2 separate regions of the Homo sapiens genome follow, and region 1 is linked to region 2. The links come from fine-mapping of genetic effects on gene expression. A gene starts in region 2. The other region holds a variant in brackets. All regions are shown on one strand. Distances are from middle to middle. Region 1 has its middle 110 kb from the start of MIR4255. Region 2 holds the start of DNALI1 (dynein axonemal light intermediate chain 1).

What was found. PIP is the estimated chance that this variant, and not a neighbour inherited with it, causes the effect. A credible set is the group of variants that fine-mapping cannot tell apart.
Region 1: its variant is the best candidate, but not a certain one, in a credible set for the expression of DNALI1 in minor salivary gland (GTEx, PIP 0.89).

The regions. Positions count from the first base shown.
Region 1 is chr1:37,268,085-37,270,990 of GRCh38, forward strand. No RefSeq gene overlaps it. Among named protein-coding and RNA genes, the nearest start is that of MIR4255, 110 kb to the left of the region's middle. The variant A/AT (reference allele first, on the strand shown) is at 1,167.
Region 2 is chr1:37,555,290-37,558,195 of GRCh38, forward strand. It overlaps DNALI1 (dynein axonemal light intermediate chain 1), which reads left to right and starts at 1,651. Exons shown (of 6, transcript NM_003462.5): 1 at 1,651-1,786; 2 at 2,314-2,459. The coding sequence starts at 1,706. It also overlaps the pseudogene RPS27P9. RefSeq lists enhancers at 258-1,228, 1,439-1,733.

The DNA.
Region 1 (2,906 bases), 290 kb before region 2:
ACACAGGTATTCTGGCTTCAGAGTTCAGGTCCTTAACCACTGTACTATGCTGCCTGGAGCAACACCCTGTCCCCATCTTCCTCCCTGGCTTCTTCCCTTCTACCTCTATTTGTTTTTTTTTTTGTCTGCCCCTCCCCACTGCCCCTTAATGACACCATTAGTCCATGAGGACAGGAGCTTTGTCTGTCTTCCTCTCTCCTGCTTCCCCAGCAGCTATAGCAGCGCCATGCAAGCAAGGGTACCTAACATGTGTGTATTGACTGAGTGACTGAATGCATGAATGAAGTGCTGTAATCTGCTCCACCTCCTCCTGCTCCTTCTCTGTAGGACGCACTGCATGGCATATAGGTTTTTGGGGAACAGTTCTTCAAGGCCTGGGTACTGAAGTGACTCCTTGTCAAGACAGGACAGCATTTGTATCAGGCTTCCCAATTTAAACCTCCTCCTAAGGCTGGGCACTGTGGCTCATGCCTGTAATCCCAGCACTTTGGGAGGCCGAGGCAGGTGGATTGCCTGAGCTCAGGAGTTCGAGACGAGCATGGGCAACATGGAGAAACCCTGTCTCTATTAAAAAAAAATACAAAAAAGAAAAAAAAATTAGCCGGGTGTGGTGGTGTGTGCCTGTGGTCCCAGCTACTCAGGAGGCTGAGGTGGGAGGATCATTTGAGCTTGGGAGGCGGAGGTTGCAGTGAGCCAAGATCACACCACTGCACTCCAACCTGGGTGACAGACTGAGATCCCATCTCAAAAATAAATTTTAAAAAAAAACTTCTCCTGCTACAGCTGGTTCTAGAAGGGCAAGGGAGACAAAGAGGCAATGAATTTGTCTGTAGTTCTTGAACTGCAGTGGGCTGTAGGGGGACAGGCAGGACAAAAATGCAGAAGGAGTATTGAGCCAGCTAAGAGAATACGCCCATGGGCCAGCCAGCAAGGAAACTGCAGGACCTCTAAGTCTGCACATGGTCAGGGGGAAAAAAGGAAGGACTCCTCTTACGGAGCACAAATTGCATCCTTTAGGAAAGAAGTCATTATACGAAAAAGATACTTGCACACCGGAGTTTGGTGGCAGCTAATAATGCATGTTTATAGCAGCACAATTCCCAATTGCTAAAACGTGGAACCAGCCCAAATGCCCATCAATCTAGTGGATAAAGAAACTGTGGTTT[A/AT]TATATACTATGGAATACTACCCAGCCATAAAAACGAATTAATTAATGGCATTCGCAGCAACCTGGATGGGATTGGAGACTATTATTCTAAGTGAAGTAACTCAGGAATGGAAAACCAAACATCCTATGTTCTCAGCCATAAGTGGGAGCTAAGCTATGAGGATGCAAAGGCATAAGAATGACTCAATGGACTTTGGGGACTCAAGGGGAAAGGGTGGGAAGGCGGGTGAGGGATAAAAGACTACAAACTGAGTTCAGGGTATACTGCTTGGGCGATGAGTGCACCAAAATCTCACAAATCACCACTAAGGAACTTACTCATGTCACCAAATACTTCACCTGTTCCCTAAAAACCTATGGAAACAAAAAAACTTAAAAAATAAATTGCATCCTTTAGGATTGTTGTGTCACAGAATTGTCACTTATTAAGACTGTTATAAGATAGGAACTAGTGAGGGTAAAGTGCCGGTGTCCTTAGGTGACCATAAGGAAAATATGGGCCAGCAAAGTGAGGGAGCTGCTAAAGAAATTTAGTTCGGTCTTAGGCTTTATCAGTAGGAGTATGGTGTATAGATTAAGGGAGACGATTGCCTCACTGCACCTTCCCGGGCCACACTTCCCTGGAGTGTTGCATGTAGTCCTTACCACACGTTAGGGGCACCTCAAAAACTTTTTTTTTTGAAACAGAATCTCACTCTGTCGCCCAGGCTGGAATGCAGTGGCACGATCTTGGCTCACTGCAACCTCCACCTCCTGAGTTCAAGCAATTCTCTTGCCTCAGCCTCCCGAGTGGCTGGGATTACAGGTGCATGCCACCATGCCTGGCTAATTTTTATATTTTTAGTAGAGACAGGGTTTCGCCATGTTGGCCCGGCTGGTCTCGAATTCCTGACCCCAGGTGATCTGTCCACCTCAGCCTACCAAAGTGCTGGGATTACAAGCGTGAGCCACCACACCCAGCTTCTCACCAACTTTTGAATGCACAAATGAGACATTCCCAGACCCACTGCAGGAACTGTTGCTGTCAGCCAGGAGGAGAGCAAATCCAGAGACCCTGACCTTTGCAATCCCTGAAGGCTCCCAGGAGATGGAGCTCAGTTTCATGAAGGAAGAAGGATTTGAGTGCTAGGAATTGTATAGTAAAGGAGCCTCACCCTAAAGAGAGTGACATTCCTGTCATGAAAGGCGATGAAGCCAAGACTCACCGCATTTGTGAGGAGATGGCAGCGAGGATGCTGAACCTGTGAAGGGGGTGCCTGGAGGGACGAGTCTTGCAACTCAGTGTGGTGCACCTGCCAGCAGCATCCATCACCTAGGAGCTTGTTGGAAACAAGGAGCCTCAGCCCCCAGCCCTAAAAATCAGAATACACATTTTAACAAGATCCTTAGGTGAGAAGCACTGGGCTAGAGGCTGGGGGTGGAGTAAAACCCTGTCAAAAGGGAAGTGATGCAGTCACCTGTTTGGAGGGCACCAGCTGAGCACCTACCTGTTGTCAGGCCCCAGAACCCCCTTTGGAGGAATTTCCACTCTGTTAGGGGCAGCAGACTCCTAAATAGGCAAGCAGCATAGAAGGAAGCTCCGAGTGCCAATAGGAGGCAGTGCAACGTGGGGTGGTCAGTTCTGGGGGAGAGTGAGACAGGAGAACCACCAGAAAGAGCTCTAAAATAAGGCCCAGAGCTGGCCAGGCATGGTGACTCATGCCTGTGATCCCAGCACTTTGGGAGGCAGAGGTGGGTGGA
Region 2 (2,906 bases):
TTTACAGCCGAGCACGGTGGCTGCAGCCTGTAATTCCGGCGCTTTGGGAGGCCAAGGCAGGAAAATCGCTTGAAGCCAGGAGTTTGAGACCAAACTGCCTAACATAGCAAGACTGTCTCTACAAAAAAATTAAATTTGGCAGGGGCTAGTGGCTCGTGCCTGTGGTCCCAGCAGAGACAGGAGGATCGCTTGAGCCCAGGAGTTGGAGGCTGCAGTGAGCCGTGATGGCACCACTGCACTCCAGCCAGGGCTACAGAGTGAGACCCTGTCTTCAAAAAAACCAAACCAAAACAAAAAAAAAAACACAAAAAACTATTTACAAATTTATCTCTGTTCCCTTATTCATTCATTCTGCCTAGTAATCCCTGAACAGAATTCCTCCTTCTCCCACCCTCACAAACCTGTTTTACCAGGAGGGTATATAAGCTTCTGAACCCTTTTCGGGGTGGGTAATCATACTGTGATTCTCCCCGTGTATACATTTTAAATACATTTGTATGCCTTTTCTCCAATTAATCTGCCTTTTGTGAATTGATTTTTGAGCGAATCTTCAGGGGGCAAAGGGGAGGTTTCCCATTGGCTCCTACTTTGTCATTTCTCCATTTAATTAGAAAAATACTTCAGGCTGGGCGCGGTGGCTCACGCCTGTAATCCCAGCACTTTGGGAGGCCGAGGCAGGCGGACCACGAGGTCAGGAGTTCGAGACCAGCCTGGCCAACGTGGTGAAACCCCGTCTCTACTAAAAATACAAAATTTAGCCGGGCATGGGGGCACGCGCCTGTAGTCCCAGCTACTCAGAAGGCTGAAGCAGGAGAATCGTTTGAACCCGGGAGGCGGAGGTTGCAGTGAGCCGAGATCACGCCACTGCACTTCAGCCTGGGCAACAGAGAGAGACTCCGTCTCAATTTAAAAATCAAAACAAGCCCTTTCTTGCGGTGACGACCTACCCACGAGAACATGCCTCTCGCAAAGGATCTCCTTCATCCCTCCCCAGAAGAGGAGAAGAGGAAACACAAGAAGAAACGCCTGGTGCAGAGCCCCAATTCCTACTTCATGGATGTGAAATGCCCAGGATGCTATAAAATCACCACAGTCTTTAGCCATGCACAAACGGCAGTTTTGTGTGTTGGCTGCTCCACTGTCCTCTGCCAGCCTACAGGAGGAAAAGTAAGGCTTACAGAAGGATGTTCCTTCAGGAGGAAGCAGCACTAAAAGCACTCTGAATCAAGATGAGTGGGAAACAATCTCAATGAACACATTTTGGGAACAACTACAACAACAAAAAAAACCTTCAAAAAACCTAGGAACTCCAGATGACTTCCTTTGGGAATTGTCCCTTAACCCTTCATGAGAAGTCAGGAGATGACTCCTGTTTTTCAGGTGACAAAATTGGAGCATGGCAAAGGTGATCTGCCCACTTCAAATCGCTAGCTAGACGGAGCATAGGGACTCGAACTGCCGTTTTCCTCGCCTCCAAGAGTACAGGGACGAACCGGTGAGCAGAAGGCCTAAGAAGTCAGGCACAAGAGGTTTCTGCCCAGGAGGCACAGAATGAAACTTGCCGGCTGTTGGCCCCGCCCCACTTCGAAGCTCCGCCCAGGCCAAGAAGCGCGGGGGCGGGAGTGAGGGGGCGGTTTCCATGGTGACGGCAAACAAGGCCCACACTGGACAGGGCAGCTGCTGGGTTGCTACTCTCGCCTCCGCCATGATTCCGCCCGCAGACTCTTTGCTCAAGTACGACACCCCAGTGCTGGTGAGCCGGAACACGGAGAAACGGAGCCCCAAGGTAAAGACGGGGGCTCGGGAGACAAAGGAGCCTCGAAACTCCGATAGGGAAAGACACATTCCCGCATGGAGGGTCAGGAATCTCAAGGGACGGGGATTGCAGCGACTGGGAGTAAAGGGAATTGGGAAGTCAGAGAAGGAGGGTGAGAGGATTGTATAGGAAGCCCAGATGTTGGGTGTGACCCCAGAGGGCAGATTTAGGATGGGGAAGGAGGTCACAGGGAGATGGATGGGGCTCACTCTTCTTAATGGTACGCGGGTCCAAGAACAGATGACTAGGTAGTGATTTCCCCATCACCAGAGGTGTGAAAGCACATGCGCCAGAAACACCTGTTCAAGCATTGAGTTGGGGCCAGACTTCATGGCCTCCTTCAGCTCTGTGACATAATTTCTGCTGAGAAGACCGACCCAAAGTAGGCTAGGAAGAGGGGAGGGCTGTGCAGAAGACCTGGAGCAATATACAGGTTGGGGATGTGTGGAGCTGAGCTCCTGAACAATTTCCTGCCCTCACCTGTGCCTTCATCTCAGGCTCGGCTACTGAAAGTCAGCCCCCAGCAGCCTGGACCTTCAGGTTCAGCCCCACAGCCACCCAAGACCAAGCTCCCCTCAACTCCCTGTGTCCCAGATCCTACAAAGCAGGCAGAAGAAATCTTGAATGCCATACTACCCCCAAGGTAAGAAAGTAGGAGCAGTGGCTGGGAGAAGGCCTAAGCTTTTACATCGTGGATTTTGGGAGTGTGGGGGGAGGCACTCTGCCTCTGTTCCTGGCTGGGGTTTCCTCCCAGTATCACAGAGCTCCTAGAACTTACATATGGCTGGATCCTGGCAGGGTGGTGGGAGACCTCTTCTCAATCTACCCTCATTTCCTGCATGCTGTCACCCAATCTCATGGCTTTAGATACCACCTATGTGCTGATGGCTCCCAAATGTGTATTTCCAGCCCTGTCTTCTCCACTAAACTCCAGGACCATATAGTCTTCTGCTTCCTCATTATCTTCATGAAGATATCTAATAGACATCTCAAACTCAATATATTCAAACTAAATCACAATTTCTTCCTTCCCCAATCTGCTCATCCCCCGTATTCTCCTTTTTACTAGGGACTCAAACCACCTTTCATT